Linked DNA regions of Homo sapiens. The protein of the gene in region 1 interacts with the protein of each later gene in a pairwise test. Each region holds a gene or a part of one and is shown in the gene's direction. Other genes may lie near its edges.

The links.
Region 2: the proteins of APPL2 (region 1) and KMT2C interact in a two-hybrid assay, tested with the Homo sapiens proteins (one large-scale study listed by BioGRID and IntAct).
Region 3: the proteins of APPL2 (region 1) and CRLF3 interact in a two-hybrid assay, tested with the Homo sapiens proteins (one large-scale study listed by BioGRID and IntAct).
Region 4: the proteins of APPL2 (region 1) and RBP7 interact in a two-hybrid assay, tested with the Homo sapiens proteins (one large-scale study listed by BioGRID and IntAct).
Region 5: the proteins of APPL2 (region 1) and RAI2 interact in a two-hybrid assay, tested with the Homo sapiens proteins (one large-scale study listed by BioGRID and IntAct).
Region 6: the proteins of APPL2 (region 1) and LGALS9C interact in a two-hybrid assay, tested with the Homo sapiens proteins (one large-scale study listed by BioGRID).
Region 7: the proteins of APPL2 (region 1) and CNMD interact in a two-hybrid assay, tested with the Homo sapiens proteins (one large-scale study listed by BioGRID and IntAct).

What each region holds. Positions count from the first base shown.
Region 1 is NC_000012.12:105,174,988-105,177,174, reverse strand, and holds part of APPL2 (DCC-interacting protein 13-beta), read left to right. Parts: intron 1-158; coding exon 159-299; intron 300-1,092; coding exon 1,093-1,140; intron 1,141-2,187. UniProt on the Homo sapiens protein: Multifunctional adapter protein that binds to various membrane receptors, nuclear factors and signaling proteins to regulate many processes, such as cell proliferation, immune response, endosomal trafficking and cell metabolism.
Region 2 is NC_000007.14:152,174,004-152,177,503, reverse strand, and holds part of KMT2C (histone-lysine N-methyltransferase 2C), read left to right. Parts: coding exon 1-1,313; intron 1,314-3,261; coding exon 3,262-3,373; intron 3,374-3,500. UniProt on the Homo sapiens protein: Histone methyltransferase that catalyzes methyl group transfer from S-adenosyl-L-methionine to the epsilon-amino group of 'Lys-4' of histone H3 (H3K4).
Region 3 is NC_000017.11:30,782,184-30,784,438, reverse strand, and holds the end of CRLF3 (cytokine receptor-like factor 3), read left to right. Parts: coding exon 1-252; 3' UTR 253-1,755; downstream 1,756-2,255. UniProt on the Homo sapiens protein: May play a role in the negative regulation of cell cycle progression.
Region 4 is NC_000001.11:10,007,228-10,010,727, forward strand, and holds part of RBP7 (retinoid-binding protein 7), read left to right. Parts: intron 1-342; coding exon 343-521; intron 522-945; coding exon 946-1,047; intron 1,048-3,500. UniProt on the Homo sapiens protein: Intracellular transport of retinol.
Region 5 is NC_000023.11:17,799,549-17,802,298, reverse strand, and holds the end of RAI2 (retinoic acid-induced protein 2), read left to right. Parts: intron 1-264; 5' UTR 265-288; coding exon 289-1,881; 3' UTR 1,882-2,250; downstream 2,251-2,750.
Region 6 is NC_000017.11:18,486,789-18,490,288, forward strand, and holds part of LGALS9C (galectin-9C), read left to right. Parts: intron 1-111; exon of another isoform or gene 112-128; coding exon of another isoform or gene 129-152; intron 153-858; coding exon 859-969; intron 970-2,152; coding exon 2,153-2,248; intron 2,249-3,500. UniProt on the Homo sapiens protein: Binds galactosides.
Region 7 is NC_000013.11:52,702,764-52,705,792, reverse strand, and holds the end of CNMD (leukocyte cell-derived chemotaxin 1 isoform 1 precursor), read left to right. Parts: intron 1-1,982; coding exon 1,983-2,198; 3' UTR 2,199-2,529; downstream 2,530-3,029. UniProt on the Homo sapiens protein: Bifunctional growth regulator that stimulates the growth of cultured chondrocytes in the presence of basic fibroblast growth factor (FGF) but inhibits the growth of cultured vascular endothelial cells.

The sequences.
Region 1 (2,187 bases):
GTATCTACCTTAAACACAGCCTAGGCACTTTATTAATAAAGATCTGCCACTAATAGGACTAATAGGATACTTTTTCTCATGACTTTTCCAGAGAGTAGCCTTGTCAGTTTTTAATTCTAGTAGTTGTATGATCTGTTGCCTTTTTTTCCACCCCCCAGTTTGAACTTACCAGTGTCACACAATTTGCTGCTCATCAAGAAAACAAGAGACTGGTTGGTTTTGTCATCCGTGTTCCTGAATCCACTGGAGAAGAATCTCTGAGTACATACATTTTTGAAAGCAACTCAGAAGGCGAAAAGGTCTCTTTTTCATGTGAAGATCCCATAATATCCCAGTCCAAACAAGTCCATTTTAAAAGAGTTTTCTGGCATTACTTCCTTGGATATTTAGTTGATTATTCTGCATGTCTCCATCCAGGAGTTCAGATAATACCTCCTAAGAAGGCCTCACTGAAAGAAAACTCGATTTAAATTTCTCTGTGGAAAATACCTATCAACCAGAATAGGGTGAATGAGGAAGAAATTTCATGGCAAGACATATTATTTAGTCGGGATATAAGGAAATGTTGAAAGCAGTTCCCCTCAAATTTGTTCTTTAAAAAAAATTAAGGCAAAAGCTACAATAGAGAATAATTTAGTCTCAGAGAGAAAACCAAGGAAGATATTAGAAAAGTTACACACAAGCTGTTGGTTTAGTATGAAAAACTTTTGACTCTATCTGCTACTTAGAATTTATCACAATTAACCAATCCTTTCAGTAAATTATCTGTTTGCCACTGTGTATATGGACATATCGTGGCTAAATACATTTAAGAGAGAGAAGAAAAATTCCTATTAAGAACTTTTAACACTGGAATTACCTGAGTTTCACTTACCTGGAATATTTTTTGTGTGGCATAAATTGGCAACAGAGGTCAGGACAGTTGGACGCAAATGCCCCGGGCCCTATGTGATGAGTCTCCTGCAGCCAGGTCCTGTGTTCCCAAGTGGGAACAGTGAGAACAGTGACCTCACTGTACTCCCAAATCACATTTGTTCTAAAATTTTATCCTTCTCTACTTTTGCCAATCACTACTTTTCTTGTCTTTTGCAGATATGTTATGCTATTAATTTGGGAAAAGAAATTATTGAGGTTCAGAAGGTAAGATGCATTCTAGCGCTGGTTTAGTAGCTACTCAAAACACATCTGTGTACACATACCAAGAGTCTTTTCAAAAAGAAAAGTGATGTTCACTGGAAAGTGTGGCCAAGTTTGGGATTTCCTTTTAAAAGTATTCTAACCACCAGAGGTTTTTGATCAGCTAGTTCCATGTTCACTGTTAACACATGAGGACTTCTTATCACTGCTGGAGCTCCTGCTTATCTGTTTTCTTGCTTGCATACTAGTTGGCTAGATTTCCTCTTTCAGATTAAGATGATAGATAAGTACCCACCGTGTGCTGCTCTAAGGCCTTGCTCCTCAGAGTATGATCACATGCCCCACAGCATTGACAGACGTCACCTGGGAGCTTTTAAGAAATGAGGATTCTGAGACCTCCCTGTCTTTCAGCAGCTTTTAATCTTTTGTTCATTCAGCAAATTTTTGAGAGCCTAGTTTGTGTAATTGAACAAGACAGATATAGTCCCTGCCCCCAGGGGGCTTCTAGTTCAGCAATGTACAGAACTTTCTGCAATAATGGAAATGATTTATATCTGCACAATTTAATATGCAGATTGAATATGGCAAGTGTGACTGAGGAACTGGATTTTTAAATTTAACTCAAATTTACATAGTAACATGTAGCCAGTGGCTACCATATTAGTGCAGTTCAGTCTTGGAGAGGTCAGAAAGACCAAGGACTAAGGCCACATACATGAAATAGTGGCAAGCACTGTAAGCTAGTATTTAATGGTATTGGTCAAAAGTTGGCAAACTTTTTCTATAAAGGGTCTTTATGTTTTTGGCTATCTCCCTTGCAACAGATTCAACTCTGCTATCATAAGACAAAAGCAGGCCAGGCATGGTGGCTTATGCCTGTAATCCCAGCACTTTGGGAGGCAGAGGCAGGAGGATCACCTGAGGTCAGGAGTTCAAGACCAGCCTGGCCAACATGGTGAAACCCCATCTCTACTAAAAATACAAAAATTAGCCGGGTGTGGTGGTGCACACCTGTAGTCCCAGCTACTCGGGAGACTGAGGCACAAGAAT
Region 2 (3,500 bases), on another chromosome or scaffold:
CCATCCACTAGGTGGTGAATTTTCAGAAGCTCCTTTGTCAACATCTGTACCGTCTGAAACAACGTCTGATAATTTACAGATAACCACCCAGCCTTCTGATGGTCTAGAGGAAAAACTTGATTCTGATGACCCTTCTGTGAAGGAACTGGATGTTAAAGACCTTGAGGGGGTTGAAGTCAAAGACTTAGATGATGAAGATCTTGAAAACTTAAATTTAGATACAGAGGATGGCAAGGTAGTTGAATTGGATACTTTAGATAATTTGGAAACTAATGATCCCAACCTGGATGACCTCTTAAGGTCAGGAGAGTTTGATATCATTGCATATACAGATCCAGAACTTGACATGGGAGATAAGAAAAGCATGTTTAATGAGGAACTAGACCTTCCAATTGATGATAAGTTAGATAATCAGTGTGTATCTGTTGAACCAAAAAAAAAGGAACAAGAAAACAAAACTCTGGTTCTCTCTGATAAACATTCACCACAGAAAAAATCCACTGTTACCAATGAGGTAAAAACGGAAGTACTGTCTCCAAATTCTAAGGTGGAATCCAAATGTGAAACTGAAAAAAATGATGAGAATAAAGATAATGTTGACACTCCTTGCTCACAGGCTTCTGCTCACTCAGACCTAAATGATGGAGAAAAGACTTCTTTGCATCCTTGTGATCCAGATCTATTTGAGAAAAGAACCAATCGAGAAACTGCTGGCCCCAGTGCAAATGTCATTCAGGCATCCACTCAACTACCTGCTCAAGATGTAATAAACTCTTGTGGCATAACTGGATCAACTCCAGTTCTCTCAAGTTTACTTGCTAATGAGAAATCTGATAATTCAGACATTAGGCCATCGGGGTCTCCACCACCACCAACTCTGCCGGCCTCCCCATCCAATCATGTGTCAAGTTTGCCTCCTTTCATAGCACCGCCTGGCCGTGTTTTGGATAATGCCATGAATTCTAATGTGACAGTAGTCTCTAGGGTAAACCATGTTTTTTCTCAGGGTGTGCAGGTAAACCCAGGGCTCATTCCAGGTCAATCAACAGTTAACCACAGTCTGGGGACAGGAAAACCTGCAACTCAAACTGGGCCTCAAACAAGTCAGTCTGGTACCAGTAGCATGTCTGGACCCCAACAGCTAATGATTCCTCAAACATTAGCACAGCAGAATAGAGAGAGGCCCCTTCTTCTAGAAGAACAGCCTCTACTTCTACAGGATCTTTTGGATCAAGAAAGGCAAGAACAGCAGCAGCAAAGACAGATGCAAGCCATGATTCGTCAGCGATCAGAACCGTTCTTCCCTAATATTGGTAGGAGTTTTCTTGAGTCTCAACGTATATTACTATGGGTATTAGAGTGGCATGCGATATGCTTATAAGATTTTATTATTAGAATTACAGTTGGAATAAAGCACTGAGTTTTTCTATTCCTCCTTGAGGAGTTTGTTTGTTTTGTTTTGAGACGGAGTCTCACTGTGTCACCCAAGATGGAGTGCAGTGGCGCGATCTCGGCTCACAGCAACCTCCACCTCCTGGGTTCAAGTGATTCTCCTGCCTCAGCCTCCCGAGTAGCTGGGACTACAGACACGTGCCACCATGCCTGGCCAATTTTTGTATTTTTAGTAGAGGTGCGGGGTTTCACCATGTTGGCCAGGCTGGTCTCAAACTCCTGACCTCAGGTGATCCGCCTGCTTTGGCCTCCCAAAGTGCTGGGATTACAGGCGTGAGCCACCCTGCTTGGCCCTCCTTGAGCTTTAGAATGAAAGCAGTTGGCTGGGCACAGTGGCTCACGGCTGTAATCCTAGCACTTTGGGAGACCGAGGCAGACAGATTGCCTCAGCTCAGGAGTTCCAGACCAACCTGGGCAACACAGGACATGGATGAAGCTGGAAACCATCATTCTCAGCAAACTAATGCAGGAACAGAAAACCATACACTGCATGTTCTCACTCATAAGTGGGAGTTGAACAGTGAGAACACATGGACACAGGGAGGGGAACATCACACACTGGAACCTGTCGGGGGTGGGGGGCTAGGGGACGGATAGCATTAGGAGAAATACCTAATGTAGATGACGGGTTGATGGGTGCAGCAAACCACCATGACATATGTATACCTATGTAACCAGCATATTCTGCACAAGTATCCCAGAATTTAAAGTATAATAATTAAAAAAAAATAACAAAAAATTAGCTGGGCATAGCAGCGTGCGCCTGTAGTCCCAGTTATTCGGGAGACAGAGGCAGGAGAATGGTGTGAACCCAGGAGGCGGAAGTTGCAGTGAGGCGAGATCGCACCATTGCACTCCAGCCTGGGGGACAGAGTGAGACTCTGTCTCAAAAAAAAAAAAATGAAAACAACGAAGAGTTTTAGATTCTTTCCAGGTAAATTAAGAGATTCAAAACTGAGTTACAAACTTCCCTCAATTCTATTATTTATGGAATTGTTTAATAGAAACTAATTGTCTTCTTAGTTCCTACATTCCAACCATTGTTGCCATATGTTTTCAGTCATGGAAGGATGAATTTAAGAAAATTATGATGGAAATAAAGCTTCTTACTGTCCTTTTGTGTATGACAAATGCTTGGCGATTTTTTGCTATATAAACCTCTTTAACTTGTTTCTAATGGTTTACTGATTCTAAAAACAACAAAAGCAATGCAGTCAAAATGCCTCAGTGCCTCTAAGAATAAGAATTAGCAATCAAAGGGCACGTGTCTAAGCAGTGTGCCTTATTCTAAATAATAAAATTGACATTCCATTTTATATATCCCCAATTTCATCATTTTGCTCCCTTTTTTTCATTTAGATGCAAATAGGTTTTTTCGTAGTAGCTTCTTATTGAGAGGTTATACCCTTAAGAAATTGGTGCATTTTTCTTTTAAGAGTGATAACTAATTTAGTAGAATTCCTTAGTATTGCAAATTCTTATTTGTGATGTTATATTTACTAAAGAAGCCATTCTGATTAGCATTGCAAAAGTTTGGATGAAAGGAAATTAATTGCATTGCTTTAGATTATTGCTTATAATCTCCCTTAAACTTGACTTTTTGTTTTAATTCCTGCAGGACTAAGGTATTAAAGCATGATTCAGTTAAGGACTACTGAGATGCGATTAAACCCAGGATAAGGTTGCCATCTCAGAAATCTGTAATGATTATTAAATAATAAAATTTAAGAGCTTGTAATATTTGAATTACTTCTTAGTGTACGTTGAACTAATTACTATGAAATAAGTAACTTTATATTTCTTTTCTAGATTTTGATGCAATTACAGATCCTATAATGAAAGCCAAAATGGTGGCCCTTAAAGGTATAAATAAAGTGATGGCACAAAACAATCTGGGCATGCCACCAATGGTGATGAGCAGGTAGGTGGAGTGGCTGCTTGTTTCTACTGGGCATCTAGACATTCATGAAATCATTACTAGTTTTTAGAAAAAACATACAGAAAATGGAAAGCCCTTGTCTAGGAATGAACAACACTATTTAAGTTGT
Region 3 (2,255 bases), on another chromosome or scaffold:
GTTTTTGTCAATGGAAAAGAAATGACAAATCAGTTACCCGCAGTTACTTCTGGGTCCACTGTCACGTTTGACATTGAAGCCGTGACTCTAGGAACCACCAGTAATAATGAAGGTGGACACTTCAAGCTTCGAGTAACTATAAGTTCAAATAATAGAGAAGTGGTTTTTGACTGGTTACTTGATCAGTCTTGTGGTTCTCTTTACTTTGGATGCTCATTTTTCTATCCTGGATGGAAAGTGTTAGTGTTTTAGATGTTTGGGTGCTTGGCTTTGGTTTTCAGGGTCTAACGTAGCTGTCCTCAGCCCAGCGTAGTTGTAATTGCTTTAAAAAAAAAGTTGAATTCATCTCTAACTTAGGCCATTGGAAAGTGTTTACTGGATTCATTTTGTAATATTTTAGCAAAAAGAGACTTCAATGTTGTGGACAAAATCATACAATTCAGTCAATTTTATTTTTAGCATACTGTTAAATATCACATCACAATAAAAATCAAATTGGCATTAAAAGTATAGAAGATATAGGAAGTTCTATACCCTTCCACTGTACTTCTCAAAGTTGGTTATTAGACCAGGAAAACTTAATGTAATATTATTTTTAAAATCATCTTAAAGGATCCAAGTCCATGTAACTCTTTAGAACAAGAGGAATAGGTCAGATAGAAGAAGCTGTGTAATGTATTAATACATCCGTTCATGTGCTGTCCACATGAATGTGTTGACTGTGCTCTCCATGTTCAGGTATTTGTAAGCAGTGTTGACTTTTATCCCCTCTTCAGTAATCTTTAAGTCCCCAAAACATTATAACTTTTTCTTTTTTTGTTGAGACGGAGTCTCACTCTTGTCACTCAGGCTGGAGTGCAGTGGTGTGATCTCAGTTCACTGCAACCTCTGCCTCCCACGTTCAAGCGATCCTCCTGCCTCAGGCTCCTGAGTAGCTGGGATTACAGGCGTCGGCCACCACACCTGGCTAATTTTTGTATTTTTAGTAGAGACAGGGTTTCACCATGTTGGCCAGGCTGGTCTTGAACTCCTGACCTCAGGTGTTCCACCCACCTCAGCCTTCCAAAGTGCTAGGATTACAGGTGTGAGCCACTGCAGTGGACCAATTTTTGTATTTTTTTAAATGCTTGACCAAGTGTCTAAAATAGGCAAGTAGTACCTTTTGTTCTTTCATTGCAATTTGATACAGTATAGGCTACAGTATTTTTACAGGGTAAAACTAGTTATGGCAGTAGTATGCACAGCAGTGTTAGCCATTTCATATGTATGTAATATGCACGTGTGTATCCAATCTGCCTGTGACATGCATTTTACTCTTTGCAGAGAATGAGCTGCAGTCCAGTTTAATGTCAGTTTAATAAGTGGTCTCTTTTTAGCAGAGCAAAAAAATATAGCGTAAATACTTATTTTTTTTAAAAACTTACTTAAATTTGTGTGTAAAATATTTATTTGAAGGACTTTAATATGTAAAAATAATTGTCTTCTATGCCACCCTACAGATTTTATTTTAATGTGAATTATTTTTTTCATTTCATTTTTACCAGTATAGTAAAAAAGTAGAAAAGCAAGTATGATATTTTTGTAAGATAATTTATTTGGGGATTCATGTTCCCTGTTAGACAATCATGACCTTTTCTACTTGTCTTTTTATATATAAGTAGTAGATTTCCACTTGTTTAGGGATTAAGAAGATGTTCTAGAATGTAGATACCTTGTCCAGCCATAGGAATCAAAATAAAAAACTAAAAAAGTTCAGTGTGTGTACTTTTTTCTTCTGTGAGATTTGGTGAATCCAGTTTTAACCTACTTTTCATTTGAAGGGAAAACAGGCTTCTTGTGGCTCCAGGCATTTTAGTAAGATATCACTGTGACTTGTGAAAGGGTATGTGTACCTTCTTGTACTTTCTTTTAAAAACTTTTTTAAAAATATTTTTTGTAGAGAATGAGGGTCTTGCTGTGTTGTCCAGACTGGTCTCAAACTCCTGGCCTCAAGCAGTCCTCCCCAGCCTTGGCCTTCCAAAGTGCTGGGATTATAGGCATGAGTGACCACACCCAGCTGGTTACTTGTACTTTCCTATATTCTGTGTCTGATACTGAGCATCTTGCCTGACACAATGTGTGCAGAATGAATGGTGGATCGAATGAGTCGTTTTCTCCAGATATCTTCATCTCATTCCTTTAATTCATCAAATATTTGTTGAATGTATTTATTTCTTAGCCTCTCTAGGGAAATGACATCTTAATTTATACCTATA
Region 4 (3,500 bases), on another chromosome or scaffold:
TGAGCCACTGCACCTGGCCTACAGTTTTTATTTTTTTATAGAGACAGGGTCTTGCTATGTTGCCCAGGCTGGTCTCAAACTCCTAAGCTCAAACAATCCTCCTGTCTTCTGTGTCCCAAAGTGCTGGAATTACTGCACCTGGCATTTGCAAACTTTTTAATCAGGCTGTGGTTGGCAGTTTGCCAAGACGATTCCTTGTAGATCTGATTTTGGCAGCAAACAACATAGAAGTCGTACAGGAAATGCTAACAATTACATGTGGTGATTTTGAGAACAGCTACCAAATTCTTCACTTTTGTATCTCAAGCGAATGTTCAAATATTTTTAAAAATTATTTTTAAGGTATTGACTTTGCCACTCGTAAAATAGCCAAGTTGCTGAAGCCACAGAAAGTGATTGAGCAGAATGGGGATTCTTTTACCATCCACACGAACAGCAGCCTAAGGAACTACTTTGTGAAATTTAAAGTTGGAGAAGAATTTGATGAAGATAACAGAGGCCTGGACAACAGAAAATGCAAGGTAAAATGTAAAGAAATGCCAGGTGCGGTGGATTACGCTTGTAATCCTAACACTTTGGGAGGCCAACGCAGGCGGACCACCTGAGGTCAGTAGTTTGAGACCAGCCTGGGCAACACGGCAAAACCCTGTCTCTACAGAAAAAAATTCAAAAAGTAGGGGGGCGTGCTGGCAGGAGCCTGTAATCCCAGCTACTTAGGAGGCTGAGGCAGGAGAATCACTTGAACCCGGGAGGTGGAGGTTGGTTGCAGTAAGCCAAGATCGTGCCACTGCACTCCAGCCTGGGTGACAGAGTGGGACTCCATCTCAAAAAAAAAAAAAAGCAGTAAGTAGGCTGTTGATTTTGCAAGGGTAACTTGGCATTCTACTTCGTAACACTTGAGGATCCTGCCAGGACAAGCTAACATTTTCTCCTCTCTTCATGCAGAGTTTGGTTATCTGGGACAATGACAGGCTCACCTGTATCCAGAAGGGAGAAAAGAAGAACAGAGGCTGGACCCATTGGATCGAAGGAGACAAACTCCACCTGGTATCCACCACATTTTGTTCTTAATGAGATGATACAGTATTAAAGGAAACATCAGGCCAAGCGTGGTGGCTCACACCTGTAATCCCAGCATTTTAGGAGGCCGAGGTGGGTGTATCACTTGAGGTCAGGAGACTAGCCTGGCCAACATGGTGAAACCCCATCTCTACTATTTTTTTTTTTTTTTTGAGATGGAGTATCGCTGTGTCACCAGGCTGGAGTGCAGTGGCGCGATCTCGGCTCACTGCAACCTCCACCTCCTGGGTCCAAGCGATTCTCCTGCCTCAGCCTCCCGAGTAGCTGGGACTACAGGCACGCACCACCACACCCAGCTAATTTTTGTATTTTTAGTGGAGACGGGGTTTCACCATGTTGGCCAGGATGGTCTCGATCTCTTGACCTCATGATCCACCCGCCTCGGCCTCCCAAAGTGCTGGGATTACAGGCATGAGCCACCACCACACCTGGCCCATCTCTACTGAAAATACAAAAATTAGCCGGGCATAGTGGCGCATGCCTATACTCACTCTCATCTTATATTAAATGAAACAGCCGAATATTCCGACAGAGGCAGGAAGATAACATGCAAATACTCATGGAACAATTCTTACCTATTATATGTAATAGCTACTTTATGTATACATAGATATGCATAGATAGATATAGTAGCTCACATCTTTGGAGTGATTATTTTGGGCCCAATTACTGTGCTCAATCCTTTGAGTGCATTATCTCATCTAATCTTCACAACCCTGTGAAAAGGACGCCATTTTTCCCATTCACAAATAAATTGGGATTTTGAAATTCCCCAAGGCTGCTGTCAGAAGCATCAGAATCCAGTTTAAAAGGGTTTATTCAGACTGGGCGAGGTGGCTCACGCCTGTAATCCCAGCACTTTGGGAGGCTGACGTGGGCGGATCACGAGGTCAGGAGATCAAGATCATCCTGGCCAACATGGTGAAACCCCGTCTCTACTAAAAATACAAAAATTAGCTGGGCATGGTGGCACATGTCTGTAATCCCAGCTACTTGGGAGGCTGAGGCAGGAGAATTGCTAGAACCAGTTAGTCGGAGGTTGCAGTGAGCCAAGATCGCACCACTGCCCTACGGCCTGGTGACAGAGGCCGTTTCAAAAAAAAATAAAACAAAATAAGGGTTTATTCAGGCATGAAGATGAGAATGGCCACCCAGGAAACACAGACTCCAAAGAAATGGGGTCAGTACACCCAAGCTGAAAAGTTAATGTCTTATTTTTTTTTTTTTTTTGAGATGGAGTCTCTCCCTCTGTCACCCAGTGTCACCCACGCTGGAGTGCAGTGGTGTGATCTCAGCTCACTGCAACCTCTGCCTCCTGGGTTCAAGCGATCCTCCCACCTCAGCCTCCCGAGTAGCTGGGACTACAGGCATGCACCACCACACCCAGCTAGTTTTTGTATTTTTAGCAGAAACGGGATTTTACCATATTGGCCAGGCTGGTCTCGAACTCCTGACCTCAAGTGATCAGCCCACCTGGGCCTCCCAAAGTGTTGGGATTACAGGCGTGGCCGCTTGTAATAAAAATTTAATTTCTTGGAATGTAATTCTTGGAGTTTTTCTTTTCCTTTCTTTTTCTTTTTCTTCTTTTACTTTTAAGCTGTTGGACTTGAGGTGTTTTTCTTTAATGGCTTTATTGAGGTATACTTTATGTACCAAAAAATGCACCTGTTTTAAGTGTACAGTTTGATAATTTCTAGTAAATGTATACAGGTGTACAACCATTCCCATTATCCAGTTTCAGACAAGTCAATCACTCCAAAACATTCCCTAGAGGCCATGTGCTGACAACTATTATTTTACAGCCTGTTTTGTTTTGTTTTGTTTTTGAGATGGAGTCTTGCTCTGTTGCCCAGGCTGGAGTGCAGTGGCATGATCTCAGCTCGCTGCAAACTCTGCCTTCTGGGTTCAAGCAATTCTCCTGTCTCAGCCTCCCAAGTAGCTGAGACTACAGGTGCATGCCACGACACCTGGGTAATTTTTGTATTTTGAGTAGAGACAGGGTTTCACCATATTGGCCAGGCTGGTCTCAAACCCCTGACCTCAGGTGATCCACCCGCCTCTGCCTCCCAAAGTTCTGGGATTACAGGCGTGAGCCACTGTGCCTGGCCTGTTTTTGTTTGTGTTTTTGAGACAGAGTCTCCCTCTGTCATCCAGGCTTGAGTGCAGTGGCGCAATCTCGGCCCCCTGCAACCTCCACCTCCTGGGTTCAAGGGATTCTCCTGCCTCAGCCTCCCAAGTAGCTGGGATTACAGGCACCCGCCACCATGCCCAGCTAATTTTTTTTTTTTTTTTTTGAGACGGAGTTTCGCTCTTGTTGCCCAGGCTAGAGTACAATGGTGCGATCTCGGCTCACCACAACCTCCACCTCCCGGGTTCAACGATTTTCCTGCCTCAGCCTTCCCAAGTAGCTGGAATTACAG
Region 5 (2,750 bases), on another chromosome or scaffold:
ACCTCACTTGGCTATTTACTGATTACATCATCTGCATTTATAGCTTAATCATCTGTTAAATTGGGGTTCTCCACGCACACAGGATCATGTGGTTGTGTTTGTATATATTAGGAGATATCTATAACCTGAACATATACATAGAGAGATGGGTTATGCTCCCTGGTTAACTAAAACGTGGAAACTTTCTAAAGATGTGAGAGAGCTCTTAAGGCAATTATAAATAGTCTTTTAAGGAAGATTCATATTGTATGTTCTGTGTTGCAGGCCAAGTGGCATCAGAGCTGAGTGATGGACGACCTGCAGTCCCAGAACCTCTCCATGGACATGACTGACTCCCCTCCTGCCTTGGCTAATAACAGACTGGAGAATGGCATGGCTCAGCTGATCACCACCGAGGCCTGGAACATCAACTCCACTGACCTGGTAAAGAAGGCCCTGGTGACCGTGCCAGCCCCATCCATTCTGAACCCCCCTGCCGAGTCTCAGAGTGGCATGGCTCTGAAGGTGGCGGCCACTGTGTTGCAGCCCCTGTGCCTCGGGGAGAGCCCAGTGGTGATGCCCATTCACATGCAGGTGGAGGGAAGCTCCGCACCAGAGCTCAATCCGAATGGCAATGCCACCTACGTCATGACCACCCAGGGCCCCGTGCAACTGCCCGTGGTGCTGGAGCAGCACGTCTTTCAGCACCTCAACTCCCCTCTGGTCCTGCCGCAGGAGGCCCCATGCTCCTCCAGTACCATCCACAACAACCTCTTCCAGGGAGCGGAGGACCCCGAGGCCCAGCCCCAGCTCCTGGACCTGAGGATCCCCAGCCAGCCGCAGGAGCCCACTTTGCCATTTGAAGCTGTGCTCCAGAATTTGTTTCCCTCCCAGGGCACTCTCGGGCCCCCACCCTGTCAGCCTCCTCCTGGCTATGCCCCTGTGCCCCCACAGCCTTTTAGCTCCCCCTTGTCCCCCCTGGTCCCACCAGCCACCCTCTTGGTGCCGTATCCTGTAATCGTCCCCTTGCCTGTGCCAGTCCCTATTCCCATCCCCATCCCGATGCCTCAGAGTTCTGAATCCAAGTTCAGCTCCAGTTTCCCCAAGCCACCATCTTCCTTCGGCCTGCACCCCTTTAAAGGCACCCAGACCCCTCTGGAAAAAGATGAACTGAAGCCCTTTGACATCCTCCAGCCTAAGGAGTACTTCCAGCTCAGCCGCCACACGGTCATTAAGATGGGAAGTGAGAACGAGGCCCTGGATCTCTCCATGAAGTCAGTGCCCTGGCTCAAGGCTGGTGAAGTCAGTCCCCCAATCTTCCAGGAAGATGCAGCCCTAGACCTGTCAGTGGCAGCCCACCGGAAATCCGAGCCTCCCCCTGAGACACTGTATGACAGTGGTGCATCAGTGGACAGCTCAGGTCACACAGTGATGGAGAAACTTCCCAGTGGCATGGAAATTTCTTTTGCCCCTGCCACGTCCCATGAGGCCCCAGCCATGATGGATAGTCACATCAGCAGCAGTGATGCTGCTACCGAGATGCTCAGCCAGCCCAACCACCCCAGCGGCGAAGTCAAGGCTGAAAATAACATTGAGATGGTGGGCGAGTCCCAGGCGGCCAAGGTCATTGTCTCTGTCGAAGATGCTGTGCCTACCATATTCTGTGGCAAGATCAAAGGCCTCTCAGGGGTGTCCACCAAAAACTTCTCCTTCAAAAGAGAAGACTCCGTGCTTCAGGGCTATGACATCAACAGCCAAGGGGAAGAGTCCATGGGAAATGCAGAGCCCCTTAGGAAACCCATCAAAAACCGGAGCATAAAGTTAAAGAAAGTGAACTCCCAGGAAATACACATGCTCCCAATCAAAAAACAACGGCTGGCCACCTTTTTTCCAAGAAAGTAAATAACGGCTTTTTAAAATTTGTATGATTATAATATGGGGAAAGGTGCATTGGTTTTATAAAAAGGCATTTAAAACAAATTATCTTTGTTAATTATTTTGGGGAGTAGTTGGGAAATGGAAAGGTGAATTGGCTCTAGAGGCCCTGTATGCTAGTATCATTTTCTTTTTTAATTTTTGACTTTTCACAAATGAGTAAATAAGAGCAACCTATTTTTCAAGCAGATTGCACATTTTTTGCAGCTTTAATGGAATATTGGGTGAATTAGAGGGGTAAAAAAAGCTATTTTCATTGCCACAAAGTGCTTTGATGATGTAATACCTAATAAAGGGTAGGATGAATATTTCACAATAAATGTTTGTTTGCACTAATTGGTTGCAGTATTTCATCATTTATAAAATTTACATTCCTTAACTGGCATAATTTGGCCAAAACTCTTGCTTGTGAAAAGCTGTAAGTTATCTGTGATTAGAGACCTAAGCTTTTCAGGCATATTGGAAAATATTGCCCTATGCCCCAGTAAAAGGAGGGTTAGGAATATGGATGACCTTGAGCAAGTCATTTCCCACTTTGGCCTTGGGTTTTTTAAATTTCATTTGTAAAATAAATAAATAAATAAGTGGCAAAGAAAAGGGACAGCGAGGTGAGTTTCAAGTGCCTGAGGCTCCTTCCAGTTCATATAGTTCTTGGGTGTGTAGAATTCTGTGCCTGGACCTTCCATAGTGTAAGACAAGACAAATGTCTCACAACAAAAAAGTAACCTGCTTCCTTCCCACCAACCAAAAGTTTAGTTGGAAATGCCCTTCTTTTCAAGGGCAGTAAGAGCATTGTTCTCAATGATTGAAAATCTTGCAAGTCAGAAGTAGTGGCG
Region 6 (3,500 bases), on another chromosome or scaffold:
AGAAAACCAAACACCGCAAGTTCTCACTTATAAGTAGGAGCTGAACGATGAGAACACATGGACACAAGCGGGGAAACAACACACACTGGGGCCTGGTCGGGGACGGAGAGCATCAGGAAGATTAGCTAATGGATGCTGGGCTTGATACCAAGGTGAAGGGTTGATCTGTGCAGCAAAACACTGTGGCACACATTTACCTAGTTAACAAACCTGCAGATCCTATACTCATACCCTGGAACTTAAAATAAAAGTTGAAGGGGCTGGGCACGGCGGCTCACCCTTATAATCCAAGCACTTTGGGAGGGTGAGGAGGACAGATGGCTTGAGGTCAGGAGTTCAAGACCTGCCTGGCCAACATGGTGAAATCCCGTCTCTACTAAAAATACAAACATTAGCTTGGTGTGGTGGTGGATGCCTGTAATCCCAGCTACTCGGGAGGCTGAGGCAGGAGAATCGCTTGAACCACTGCACTGCAGCCTGGCTGACAGAGTGACACTCTATCTCAAAAAAAAAAAAAAAAAGTTGAAGGAAAAATAATAAATAAATGAAACCCCAGGAAATTCAGTTTGGTTCCTGAGCATGGGCTCTTTCTGGAACAATATGGCCTCCTAACCAGGCTGGAAATCGAGGAGTGAGAAGAAAGGGGAAGGAAACAACCAGAAGAATGGAAAGCCCGACTGGAGCCCAGTAGAGACTCCGGTTGATGCACTTCGGGCCACACACACGTCCCTGTAACTGGCCCCACACTGAAGACCAGACTCAGGTCTTCATTTTTTAGAAGGAGGGACCAGGAGCTCAGGGGTGGTCCCCATCCCGGCCTGGGGCACCTCCCCCGAAATACGTGCTCTCCTCTGGCAGGTGATGGTGAACGGGAGCCTCTTCGTGCAGTACTTCCACCGCGTGCCCTTCCACCGTGTGGACACCATCTCCGTCAATGGCTCTGTGCAGCTGTCCTACATCAGCTTCCAGGTCAGACTGTCCACCTGGCACCGGTCCCAGGGGCTGGGATGCAGGGCCCAGCGTAGCTGTGCTTAGGCCCAGCTGGGGGGACCCAAGCCAATCTCCTACCCAGGTCACTCTGGGGACAACCTCTGCTTCCCTGTCCCAGTACCTGCCCGCCCCTTCTCCTCTGTCACTCTGCCCCTCCTTCTGTGTCACTGTCTCTGTCTGGAACACCTGCCTTGGTCTCCCAGACTCCTCAGCTGCCCCTTTCTCTTCATCCGTCAATTTCCATCCTGGTAAGGAGGGCATATTGTTCTAGAAAGAGCCCAGGCTCAAGAACCAAACTGAATCCAGTTCAAATTCCCAGCTCTGCCATTCGTCATCTGTGGGATCTTAGACAAGCAACTTTGCCTCTCTCAGCCTCAGTTTTGTCATCTGTAGAATGAGCATGGTCATTGCCTGCCCCCCATGGGTGGTTGTGTGATTCATTGAGGAGACAGATATCAGAGGTCACACAATGGCGCCCCTGGGCCCACACCAGGGTCTGTGTGACCTCTGTGTTTTAAAAACTTTGAATGCGTTGCCAACATCTAAAAGGTCAGGAGACCCAGGTATGGTGGTGGAGGTCTGCAATCCTGGTTACTCAAGAGGCTGAGGCAGGAGAATCGCTTGAGCCCAGGAATTAGAGTTCTGCCTGAGCAACATAGCAAGACCCCATCTCTAAAATCTTTTTGTTTGAATAATAAAATAAAATAAATAAAACTAAAGAAGGTCAGGAGATACCAACACCACGTGAAAAATGGGAAGATTAGGGTATGCTGGGCCCACATTCCCACAGGGCACCGGCAGCTGGATGGGAGCTGCTGTTACCCTTTTGGCATTCAAGGGAGCTCCCTGAGATGAGCGAAGTGCACAGTAGGCCCTCAGCAAATCTGGGCTCCTCACCCTTTGGTCCTCATCTCTCATTCCCTCCTTCCCTGACTCTCTCCCCTGCGGGTGGAAGGGGAGGGAAGAGCTGGAGGGAGACTGTCCCCCTGCGCTGCTCACCGAAGCCTGGCCCTTTCCGCTCCCGCCTCCGTGTGGCCCTAACCCCCTTGCTGCATCCCCCTGCCTGCCTGTTCTCTGCCTCCTGCCCCTGCATCTGCCTTTCGGCTTCTCCTTGGCTCTATTAATGCTTCTCCTCACCGGCCGGTGCCTTTTGTTTTAACAGAATCCCCGCGCAGTCCCCGTTCAGCCTGCCTTCTCCACGGTGCCGTTCTCCCAGCCTGTCTGTTTCCCACCCAGGCCCAGGGGGCGCAGACAAAAAGTGAGTTCAACACAGAGGCCCTGGGTGGCTGAGCAGACAGCAGGAAGGACCGAGGGTTTGAGAGGCTGGCCCCAGCCAGCAGGCCACCAGGGCCTATGGGCCACATCTTGCCCACTCAAGAGTTCCCTGTCTCTGTCTGCTGGGCACCCAGAGCCGGGGACCTGGGTGTTGCCCTGGATTCTTCACTACCCTTTCTTTATGTCTCTCCAAGGCACCAACATATCTCCCTCCCAAAGCCACCGATGTGGCCCAGGCCTCTGGGATTCCTCACCATGACTACAGGGGTCCAGTTCCCCACCCCCCACACCCAACCGCTGCCACAGTGACCTTCTTATAAGCAAATCTGATCACACTCTCTCCCTGCTTAAAAATCTTAAAAGTCCCCAGCCCTTTAAACAAAGCCCAAATTCCCCAGCAGGGCATACGAATTCCTCCCCAGTCTGGCCCCAGTCCACCTCCTTGCCTCACCCCCAACCCACGAAGCTCATGCAACCTCCACGGCTCACTCAAGGCCCTCTCGGGCCACCATGCTTTTGCATATGCTGTCCCTGGTCCCGGAAGCACCCTCTGCCAGCCTGCCCTCAGCACACGCCTAATCGCCCTTCCATGCTCTGCCAAAGTGTCGCTCCTCTGGGAGTCCTCCCTGCCCAGAATATTGTTGGATGCTCCCCCCATGCCCCCACGGAGTCTGTACATATCTGTGCCATGCCAGTTCACAGCACCCCATTGTAACTGTTTGCGTGTCTGTCCCTGTCACTCCACCCCCATCTCCCTATGCCCATGAGGCCCCAGAGGGCTGGGACTGTGGGTCGTTCATTTGCACAGTGCCTGGCACTCACTTAGGGACTCGAAGAATGGATGAATGTGGAATGTGGTTTTCGCAGCCAGGGAGAATGGGATACCAGCCAGGGCAAGAACAGTCTACTGGGTGGGGCAGGATCCACGACAAGGAGGTGGGCAGCCCTTCCTCTGGCCACTCAAGCAGTGGGGACTGGGAGGAGGGGCGCTTTGTCTATGTAGCCTTTTTATGGCCCATGATGGTACAGACAGTGCACCTGCCTCCTGCCACGCTGACTTCAGGACTGGTGGAGCCCCAGGGAACATTCGCAGGGCAGCCAAACTTTGGCCCTGGCCCTGGCGCTGGCCCTGGCCCTAGGGATGACAGAAAGTGTGCTGGATACAGTCAGACAGAATTGGCTGCCATTTTGGATTTGATCCCTTCCACCCGGGCAAGCTTGGGCAAGTTGCTTAA
Region 7 (3,029 bases), on another chromosome or scaffold:
ATCCAGTCTTGAGTGACCTTTATCCCTTGAAAAACTCCAATTATATCAATTTTTTCCTTTATTATATGTTGGACTTTAAGCAGAAATGGTTAAAGCATTTATCTCCATGATCTCATTCAGTTATTCCTTTAAAAAACATATCTTAGGGTAACAACATGAGATTTCCTCCCAACCTTTCAATCCTAAAACTTTTGTCAGGTCCTCAGATAAGGAAGTGCCTCAACTGACAGGCCTTTTAACTCTCCCTGCCTCATAATTAATAAATGAGGTTGTTGTCTTTTTGCTGTCCCAGATTAACCTATTCAAGAAATAAGGTAAAGAACAGAGTGAGTCTGATGAATTAAAAAATGAATGCTTTAAGAGTAAGATAATAAATATTTTGATGACATAACTTGAATATGGGTTGTATCAGATCATGTTGTTAATTTTGTGATAATGGCAATCTGGTTGTAAATTTAGGAAAATATCCTTATTTTGGGGGGCACATTCTAATGTATTTATGGAAGAAATGTCACAATTCCTCCAATTCTCTTTAAATTCACTTCAGAATTTACTTTAAAATACTAGTTTTGCTTTGATGGACATATAAATTATTTCCCTATCTTTTGCTGTTGCAGGAAGGGGAAAAGCAAATTTGACAATAGGTTAGCAATTGTCCAATCTAGATGAGTCTATTGGTGTTCAATCTATAATTTTCTCTACTCTCCAGTATGTTTGAAATTTTTTTTTTTTCCAAGACAGAGTTTCACTCTTGTTACCCAGGCGGGAGTGCAATGGCACAATCTCAGCTCACTGCAACCTCCACCTCCTGGTTCAGGAGATTCTCCTGCCTCAGCCTCCTGAGTAGCTGGAATTACAGGTGTCCACCACCACGCCTGGCTAATTTTTTAGTAGAGATGGGGTTGGTTTCACCATGTTGGCCAGGCTGGTCTCAAACTCCTGACCTCAGGTGATCCACCCACCTTGGCCTCCCAAAGTGCTGGGATTGCAGGCATGAGCCACTGCGCGTGGCTGAAATTTTTAATAACTCCCCCCACTCCCCGACATCCCAAATTAAGATTAAAGACTTTGTTTAAACACCAGAATCAGCTAACTTTAGGAAAGAATCTTAAATTGAATCAAGAATTTAAAGATAAGGGTTTCTTGGGAATGCACTTCAATACCATATTAAAAATAATGCAGAATCTCCACCCTTACAAGTCCCCAAAAAGGAAAACCAAATATGTAAACCGGGCAGGGTTGGAGGGATGGGAGTTCCTTCCAGTTCTGTAATCTCACCAGCAGTGAAAATGGAGATTTTTACTTCACCAATGTAATCTTGTGTTTATATATTTACATAAAAAACTAGAAGGCAAAGTTTAAGGCCTTGAATTTTACATGTTTTTGTGGAGTCTTTTCCTGAGACCCCTTTGTCCCTATAGAGATAACATCCCCATTCTGTTACTGAAATGAAAGCAGGAGAAAACTAAATGACTTGACAGTGTTCTCAGAGCCAGTGCAACTGGAATTGAAATCTGTCTTTAGCCTAGATTGATGAGTTTCAAAAAGTGCTTCTAGAGCCCTGGAAGCTATTACTGCAAGAAGCCACAAGCATTCCACTGACTTAGAATTAGCAGTGGCAGAAATGCTACTTTTTATCATAATGCTTCCTTCTTGCTTTCCTACTTAAAACAAGCTGAGTTACTAAGTGGTAACCATAGTTCATTAAAGGCATGGAGAAACTTCAGGATATCGTTTTAAAAGACAAAACAACTTTCTAGTCAGTGACAGGTGAGGTAGGTGTAGATTCCTTGGTGTCAAAAGGAATTATGAATGACAGCAGTGAACATGAATTATGAATGACAGGGTAAACAAGATCAAACCCTTTACAGATTACACCTTCCTGTAGCAGTGAAAAATTCAGAATCTTATTTAAAAATAACATGCATGCTATGACCTTCCCACTATGCAGTTATCACAAATAATTATCTTTTATTTCACAGCAGCAGGAAGGGGAAAGCATGACATTCGACCCTAGACTGGATCACGAAGGAATCTGTTGTATAGAATGTAGGCGGAGCTACACCCACTGCCAGAAGATCTGTGAACCCCTGGGGGGCTATTACCCATGGCCTTATAATTATCAAGGCTGCCGTTCGGCCTGCAGAGTCATCATGCCATGTAGCTGGTGGGTGGCCCGTATCTTGGGCATGGTGTGAAATCACTTCATATATCATGTGCTGTAAAATAAGAACTAGCTGAAGAGACAACCAAAGAAGCATTAAGGCAGGTTGATGCTGATAGGACCACAAAATATTTTTACACTCAACCTGAGCGGTTATTCTTGACACTCTTAACAGAATTTTTTCAATTGTTTTCCAGAACTTTAGTATATGCAAATGTACTGAAAGGGTAGTTCAAGTCTAAAATGCCATAACCCCTTTATTATTTGTTATTTTTTATTTGCATTGCTTTGCCATAAGTCTTCCCTTGCTTGTATCTTCCAAAGCTATTTTGAAATAAACATGAAAATTTACAGTTTGCCAAAAATCTCAATTGTACACTTGAGCTCCTTTTAATTAAGTCATGATGAAAATAAGTCATTGTTATTTGTACAGAATTCCTCAACTGTTCTTAATCTTTTTTGTCCCCAGAATTCCCAGATAAAAACACACAGAAAAAGGAAAGGATATATAATGGAATCTACCTAAAAGTGAACATTTTTAGCCTCAATCTGGAAGCTCATGGGGAATTATTTGAGTGCACTGGCATGTGACCTGTGTTAAGAGTCACCTCCAGGGAAACAGCACTAGGATAAAGAAAAATGCAGTCGAAGATAAATCAGACTTGTGGGGAGGAAGGACTTTATTGACATTCTGAAAAGCAGGTCTTCACACCTTTCTCAATCTGTTTTCAGTAAGTGGTCACTGGGCATGAAGAAGCATAATGATTTTTACCTTTGTAGTACAAATCAGGCTGCGGCTGTAGTCCAATTACCAATAAGTTACTCTCCTAGTTACAGGGCTGACAGTGTTGCTTGGCAGATACAG